2 linked regions of the Homo sapiens genome follow. The protein of the gene in region 1 interacts with the protein of each later gene in a biochemical or structural test. Each region holds a gene or a part of one and is shown in the gene's direction. Other genes may lie near its edges.

Region 1 (5,270 bases):
ACACACATACACACAGAGTTTAATATGTATTCAGAGAAAAGAGTATGGAATGAAGTAGACCAAATATTAGTCATAATTTTTCTCTTAATAAAGGATTATGGGTGATTTTCATGTTATTATCTCAGCTGAGCTATCTTTTATAAAGAAATATTAAAATAGTGACAAATGTTGTTATCTCTTAAACGTTTTTATGTTTAATTATGTTTTAAAAACATGTAACGTAAAATTTACTATTTTAACCAGTTCTAAGTATACAATTTAGTAGTGTTAAGTATATTTACATTATTGTGTAAATGTTGTAACTTTTACAGAGGAGTAAAGACAGTTTTTCCTTTTAAAAATTCCATGCTCACTGTTTTGAAAATAATAATAACAATACACCTTACTTAGTGCTTCGAAAAGGCAATGTGACAGCCACAGGTGTTTGCCCAGCTGCAGGTGCCTCTGCAAAGCATGTCTGTCATTCCCTGAATAGCTAATATAAAGAAACAGTTCAGGTGGGCACTGGCCTTCTTGTAAAAGAAGAGTGAAATCTGTCTCCAGAAGAAACATGAACTGCAAACCTCCCTGATAGGGTGCCTTCTCTTTTCTAGATAATTGCTTATCAGCCCTATGGGAAGTCCGTGGATTGGTGGGCATTTGGAGTCCTGCTGTATGAAATGTTGGCTGGGCAGGTAATTGAATTTTAAGTGATCGATAAGAGAAGTCCTCCCTACCCCCATCCACATGGTTTCTTTAGGAGAATGCATGTTTGGTAACAGCTCATAAATTGGAACCTCTATGACTTTCCCGGCCTTGGGGTCATACAAGTCTGTGGTCATTTGAAAGCCTGGGTGTGTGGCTTCACTGTGGGCCCCAGGGAGGAGGGTCTGCCAGTTGAGGGGAGCTAGGGGGAGGGTTCAAGCAGGGATTCTTCTCCTCCCACCCTCCCCTGTCATACAGGCACCCTTTGAAGGGGAGGATGAAGATGAACTCTTCCAATCCATCATGGAACACAACGTAGCCTATCCCAAGTCTATGTCCAAGGAAGCTGTGGCCATCTGCAAAGGGGTAAGTGCATCTCTTAAAGCTGTGACCAGGACCACCACATAAAGGCATGTGGGCTGTACCTTGCCCAAGAACACCCCACCAGGGGGGAACACAGCCTGAACTCCACCCTTCACTCCATTTGCCAATATGAGAACCCTGATGTGGAGCTGCTACCTCCCGGAGGAGAGAGAGCTTTTTTTCTGATTTGCACAGAAGTGCTGTAGAGAGCTGCCTGCAGCTGCGTCTTGCTGCTGGCTGGGCTGCAGTCTCTGAACCAGCACAGGGGAATGCTTATTGAATGAATGAGGTAGAAAGCACAGAGATTTTGTCAAAGAGCTGGAAGTCATGGGAAAGGGCACAAGAGGTCTTTTGCACAACTCAGGCTATCTTGCCCTGCTCTGCTGTATGTGTTTAGTTAATACTAAGAGCGTGCAACTTTTGTTCTAAAAAATACCACGCCGTGTTGAGGTTAAGGAATTCTCTAGATAAGCAGACTGAAATTCAATGTACTCAAAATCCCACTGTCTCCTCTCCCCAGACACACACACAAATGGCTAAAAGGGCATGCACGCTTGGACATCTACGGTTTATGCACAGGGCACCTGTGAAGAAAGCAGGATGTGTGTTTATGGGGAAGGATTGTTTGTTTTGCATCTTGTGTTGGACCAGGGCATACTCACAGTGACTTCTGTGAGATCCTAAAGATCAGCGACCCTCACCTTTGGAGCCATCAGAATAACCCGAAGTGCCTTACCAGAATGCACATGCTTCTGCCTTACCCCAGAGATTAAGTCTGGGTATGAGTATTTTGGAAAAGTCTCCATTTGGCTTGCAGACCACTGCCTTTAAAAATACTGTCCAAATGAAGTGATTTTTCAACTCTGATGGAAGCCTGAAAGCAATAGAATTAGACGCCCAGAAAATATGTTCTACACATAATATACTAATAAAGGATTTGCTCTCCCTCCACCCAGTGGTACAGGTTAGAACATGGCCGTGCCTTAATCAGTGGGTTCCCACCTGTGTGTCTGAATAAACCAGGGCTGCCAGTCCTAGATCTGTGGGATGCTTGCAGACTTTTCATGCCCTACTTTGTTCTTCCTGACCCCAGCCAGATGCTGGATGCACTGTCTTGGGTGAAGGAAAGCTGGGAAACTCAGGCAGGCCAATCTGAGGCTTGGCCCAGTTTGGAATAGCTGGGCCAGCCTCTCAGCCTAAAAGCGCCTTGTCACACTGCCTAAATTCCCACTCTCAATGAATCACCTAAGGTTTGCACCTCAGCTGCATAGGCTAAGATGCATGTATCCCTGGGGAAACCACCTGTGAATTAGTCTCAATCCCGAACATCTAAAGTGAATTGCTTGAAAATATTTTCTTTGAGGGTGTGAGGCAGGGAGAAAGAAAGTGAAGAATAGAGAGGGGAGTCCCAGAGGTGCATTAGGAACCCAAGCAAAGCCCATAAAGAAAAAAAAGGCACACACGAAGGCCTCCACAGGCCCCCGTAGACAAGTTATTGAAGGGTGGGGGCGGGTAGAGAGAAGGTGGTACCTGGAGCTTTTAGTTTGTTTAATAATTACCAGCATATAAGGATCCAGAGATTTCTCAAAAACATTCAGCTTTCAGGTTTCTCTTGAAAAATCAGATCTTGCCACATTGGCCTGTCATTCTTACAAAGCACCAGTCAGCTGGATTGGAAACCATGGCCCTCTGTAGTTGGAGCTTGCCCTCTGTAATTCTCAGACGTTCTCATTTGGCCAATTCTCTCCAAGTTCAAATCCTGGTTCAGGCATTAATTGCCGCAGGACCTTGGGGAAGTTGTTTGACGGCATCTGCAGATTGGGGATAATAATAGCACTCCACATTGGGTTCTTTGATGACTAAACAGCTGAATACTGTAAATCACTTAGAATAGAGGCTGGCACTCTGCTCCAAGCCCCTTGGAAGTTATTATTACTATTACTAGTGCTGACGCTATTGTGTTATCTGCCAGGTTCCTCTTGGCATTTGAGTTTGCATCCCCTGGAATTGCAACTTTTAAAGTAGGGGATTTTGGAGATCAAGGGACCCTTTGCAAATCTTGACCCTTCTACTTTCTAGGCACAAGGTGTTTTTGTTTTGTTTTGTTTTGTTTTGTTTTGTTTTGTTTTGTTTTATCAATGTCTCGCTCTGTCGCCCAGGCTAGAGTGCCGTGGAGTGATCATGGCTCACTGCAGCCTTGATCTCCCAGGCTCAAGGGATCCTCCTGCCTCTGCCTCCCAAAGTGCTGGGATTACAGGCATGGGCCACTGCACCCAGCCTAGGTGCAAGATCTTAAGCCACTTCCTTTGCATCTCTGGGCTTCTGTTTATTTTAAAAAATGGAATAGTAGTACTCATTGAAAAGAGTTTTTGAGAGCATTAAATGAGATAACATAAGAGAAAGCTCCTTGCATGATGTGGGCACATAGTAGGTGTTTAATACATCCACAGGGTCCTCCCCTTCACACGCCCGCCCTGCCTGGACAGCTGGGGGTTCTAAATGGGTCATGGAGGAAAGAGCATTTTCCAGGTCAGCTGCCTTCAGCTCCTGCTCCAATTAGCAGTTTCCCTGGTAGAGCCGTTTTCTATTAATTCAGGACCCATAACCTTCATGATTAACTGGGGTGACTCTCTTACTATTGAGTTTGGGGACCATTATTAATTGAGTGGGCTGAGTCCAATGGGGCTCTTCCTTCAAGGAGGGTACTCCAAAAACGAGTGATGCTCAAGCAAACAGCCAAATGCTTCCTCTGGAACAGCGAGCCCCAGGGGATACGTCTGGGAGGTGATCAGAGATTGGAACAGTGATTAAATCCAGCTGTCTACATGGCTTCGGGCACATTAGAGCAGAGTGCGGGAACTGGGCAGAGACTCCGAATTAATGCTGGATGTTTTTGCAGTACCTTTTCTTTGCTTGGCATCCTCCTGCTTAGACAGAAATTCAGTTGAGCTTTTGAAAACAGTCACCTGTTTAATTGAAGCAGTGTCCTTTATATGTCCATTCCCTTAAAGGCCCGATTTTCTACTAAAAAAAAAAAATTAGTAAAACCTTACTCAGATGGCTATTCCCACTTTGAACAAACTTGAAGCAAACAGAAGCCCAAATAGACAGGACCTTAGGGTGAAAACCAGCAGACACTGAACAGCTGAGACTGAACATAAAGCTATAAGAGTCCTGAGCCAGGCAGAGCTGTTCAAAGCCTTGCCCTGCTCCTTAGCTGTTTGACCTTAGGCAGATGACTTTACTTCTCTGCACCCACATCCTTTACCTGGAAAATGGGGGATAATAGTTGCTGAGGCCTTAGAGTATTGTTGCAAAGTTTAAAGAGTAATGGGTAATGGCCGGGAAGCCTTTAGCACGGAGCCTGAACGCATATGATGTTGTCATACTCAGTACACGGAAGCCGTTATTGATGTTATTATCAGTGTGAACCAAAACCTCACTGCCCTTTCTTTCCTCCCATCCTAATCTTACACAAATGTCAAGCCTTGGCTCAATTTCCTCACCCTCCATAAACCTCTCCTGACAAAGCCAGGCCACAAAAATTCCTGAGAAAACCACGTGTGAAATGCACTCCCATTTTTCTTAAAAGCCCAAGTTTTAGAGCTAGGCAGAGGTGGAGTCTGCACCCAGCTCTTACTGACTCTACCACTTCCTCTCTGGAGTCCTTACTGTTCCTCAACTTCTCTGAGTGTTCATTGCCTTTTTATTCAAATGGGAAAAATAGTATACTCACCTCATTGGGTTATTATGATGATCAGGGAAGCTCATGCATGTAAATAAAGAAGTAGCAGCTCGGCGCGGTGGCTCTTGCCTGTAATCCCAGCACTTTGGGAGGCTGAGGCAGGCAGATCATGAGGTCAGGAGATCGAGACCATCCTGGCTAACATGGTGAAACCCCGTCTCTACTAAAAATACAAGAAAATTATTAGCTGGGCATGGTGGTGGGCGCCTGTAATCCCAGCTACTCGGGAGGCTGAGGCAGGAGAATGGCGTGAACCCGGGAGGTGGAGCTTGCAGTGACCCGAGATCGCGCCTCTGCACTCCAGCCTGGGTGACAGAGTGAGACTCCGTCTCAAAAAAAAAAAAAAAAAAAAAGAAGTAGCTAGCTTAGAATGTAAGTGCTCAGTTAATTTCCCCACCCTGGAGGATACACTTTATATGACAAGTACATGCTTGTGTGTGAGACCACAAATTATCTTGCGAGGGGGCAACAGGCTGAG
Region 2 (3,500 bases), on another chromosome or scaffold:
GGGCATACCCCTTTCTTGGGATAATGGGCATCCCTGGGGTCAGGGGTGGGCTGGGGGTGGGGGAGTGAGAGCCCACCTCCAAACCAATCACAACATTTAAAATACCAGTTTTACAGCAAAGCTCTTGAATAGCCACAGGAATGGAGGAGGACAGCTCTAGGAATCATTTGTACACAAATACCTTGGAGATATTGTAGGTTCAGTTACAGACTACTGCAATAAAGCACATATCAAAATAAAGCAAGTCACACAAATTTTTTGGTTTCCCAGTGCATATAAAAGTTATATATATATACACACACACACACACATGCACATAAGTTATATATAACTTATATGTATATATACACATATAAGTTATATATAACTTATACATATATACATATGTATGTATGTATATATAGATATATATAACTTTTAAACTGTGCTACTTTTATACTATATATGTATATATACACACATAACTTTTATACTATACTACTTTTATACTATATATACATATATGTATCTAAAACTTTTATACATATAAGTATATGTAATTTATATATGTACACATGTAAACATATATATAACTTTGTGTAATTCTATTGTACACTTAATAGACTAAAGTATATTTTATAAAAAGAAATAGAATTATTAGAATAGCACAATAGAATTAAATAAAATATATATAGTATAAAATATACTGTAGTCTATTAAGTGTATACAGTATATACATATATGTATATATACATATATGTGAATATATACATATACACACAGTATAAAATATACTGTAATATACTGTAAATATAATGGCATCAAGAATGGTGAATCCTATTCATATGGTTTTCAATTTACTTTGCCCAGATCCATCAGAGGAATCACTATCCATGGCAGCTAAAGCCTTACAAAAAGTATACATTGTAATATATTTACCTATATATATACACATATACAGTGTAAAATATACTGTAGCCTATTAAGTGTGCAATAAAATTACACCCAAAAACAATATATACACCTTAATTTTAAAAGCTTGATTGCTAAAAAATGCTAAATTGCTAAAAATGAGCCTTCAGTGAGTCTTAATCTCTTTTTGCTGGTGGAGGGTCTTGCTTCGATGTTGATGGCTGCTGACTGACCAGTTTGGTGGTTGCTGGTGGCTGGAGTGGCTGTGGCAATTTCTTAAAATAAGACAACGGTGAGTTTGCTGCGTCAATGGACTTTTCCTTTCACTAAAGATATCTCTGTAGCATGCACCGCTGTCTGATAGCATTTTATCCATAGTAGAACTTCTTTCAAAATTGGAGTCAATCCTCTCAACCCCTGCCACTGCTTTATCAACTAAGGTTATGTAATATTCTAAGTCCTTTGTGGTCATTTCAGCAATGTTCACAGCATCTTTACCTGGAGTATATTTTATCTCAAGAAGATAAAATATTTACTCATCCACAATTTATTTACTCATCCACAAGAAGCAACTCCTCATCCATTCTTCAGGCTCCACTTCTAATTCTGGTTCTCTTGCTATTTCCACCACATCTGCAGTTATTTCCTTCACTGAGGTCTTGAACCCCTCAAAGCCATTCACGATGTTTGGAATCAACTTCTTTTAAATTTCAGTTAATGTTGATATTTTGACCTTTTCCCCTGAATTATGAATGTTCTTAATGGCATCAAGAATGGTGAATCCTATTCAGACAGTTTTCAATTTACTTTGCCCAGATCCATCAGAGGAATCACTGTCTATGACAGCTAAAGCCTAAGATTTGAAAGTTGAAATTACTCCTTGATCCATGGGCTGCAGAATGGACGTTGTTTTAGCTGGCATGAAAACAACATTTATCTCCTTGTACATCTGCATCAGAGCCTTTGGGTGACTAGGTGCATAGTCAATGAGCAGTAATATTTTGAAAGGAATCATTTCTTCTGAGCAGTAAGTCTCAACAGTGGGCTTAAAATATTCAGTAAACCATTCTTAAACAGATATGCTATTATCCAGGTTTTGTTTTTCCATTTTTAGAGCATAGGCAGAGTAGATTGAGCATAATTCTTAAGGGCCGTAGGATTTTTGGAATGGTAAATAAGCACTGGGTTCATCTTAAAGTCATCAGCTGTGTTAGCCCCTAAAAAGAGAGTCAGCCTGTCCTTTGAAATTTTGAAGCCAGGCATTGACTTCCCCTTTCTAGCTATGAAAGCCCTAGGTGGCATCTTCTTCCAATATAAGGCTATTTCTTCTACTCTGAAAATGTGTTGTTTAGTGTAGTCACCTTCATCAATTATCTTAGTTAGATCTTCTGAATCACTTACTGCAGTTTCTACATCAGCACTTGCTGCTTCATCTTTGAACTTTTGCATTATGGAGAGGACTTCTTTCCTTAAACCTCAAGAACCAACCTCTGCTAGATTCAAACGTTTCTTCTGCAGCTTCCTCTCCTTTTTCAGTCTTCATAGAATGAAAGAAAGGTACTGTCTTGCTCTGGATTAGGCTTTGGCTTAAGAGAATGTTGGGGCTGGTTTGATCTTCTGTCCAGACCACTAAAGCTCTCTTCACATCAGCAATAAGACTGTTTTGCTTTCTTATCATTTGTGTGTTTGCTGGAGTAACACTTCTGATTTCCTTTAAGATCTTTTTCTTTGCATTCACAACTTGGCTGTGAGGCACAAAATGCCTCGCTTTTGGCCTGTCTTGGCTTTTGATATGCCATCCTCACTAAGCTTCATTATTTCTAGCTTTTGATTTAAAATGAGAGTCATGTGACACTTTCTTTGACCTGAACACTTAGAAGTCAAAGTAAGGTTATCAATTGGCCTAATTTCAATATTGTTGTGCCTCAGCAAATAGAGAGGCCTAAGGAGAGGAATGGCCAGCCAGGGGAGCAGCCAGAACACACACAACATTTATCAATTAGGTTGGCCATCTTACATGGATGCAGCTCAGGACGCCTCAAAACAATGACGATAGGAATATCCAAGATCACTGATCACAGATCATAGATCACCATAACAACCATAATAGTAATTTAAAAGTTTGAAATAATGTGAGAATTAACAAAACGTGACAGACACAAAATGTGCACATGCTGTTGGAAAACTGGCACAGAAAGACTTGTTCAAGGCAGGGTGGCCACAAATCTTCAATTTGTAAAAAATACAGGATCTGTGAAGCACAATAAAGTGAAGCATAGCAAAATGAAGTGTGCCTCTATTTAGCTTTGAAGTGCACTGTGTAGATCAGATTCCAACTTAATAGAAGTATTTATTGAGCCTACTATGCACAGAGTTCTGGGAGTACAGAAGAACATAATCCTTGCCCTTAAAGAGATTATGCTCAATCTCATTCACTTGAAGTCAACTCAATGTTTATTGAGTTCCTGTCTTGGGCTCAGTGGGGATGGGATAAAGAAGAAAAGAGGATGAGTTAGCCAGCCTCTGCCCCCCAAGGTATCACACCCTGTTAAGGAAGTGGGCTGTAGACAAAAATGACTCTAAGTCTGGCCATAGTAGCAGCTTTAATA

Evidence for each region. Proteins that work in one complex are often made in the same cells at the same time.
Region 2: of the proteins of PRKCB (region 1) and SYT6, one has a biochemical effect on the other in vitro, tested with the Homo sapiens proteins (one study listed by BioGRID).

What each region holds. Positions count from the first base shown.
Region 1 is NC_000016.10:24,184,518-24,189,787, forward strand, and holds part of PRKCB (protein kinase C beta type), read left to right. Parts: intron 1-593; coding exon 594-674; intron 675-942; coding exon 943-1,050; intron 1,051-5,270. UniProt on the Homo sapiens protein: Calcium-activated, phospholipid- and diacylglycerol (DAG)-dependent serine/threonine-protein kinase involved in various cellular processes such as regulation of the B-cell receptor (BCR) signalosome, oxidative stress-induced apoptosis, androgen receptor-dependent transcription regulation, insulin signaling and endothelial cells proliferation.
Region 2 is NC_000001.11:114,140,370-114,143,869, reverse strand, and holds part of SYT6 (synaptotagmin-6), read left to right. Parts: intron 1-3,500.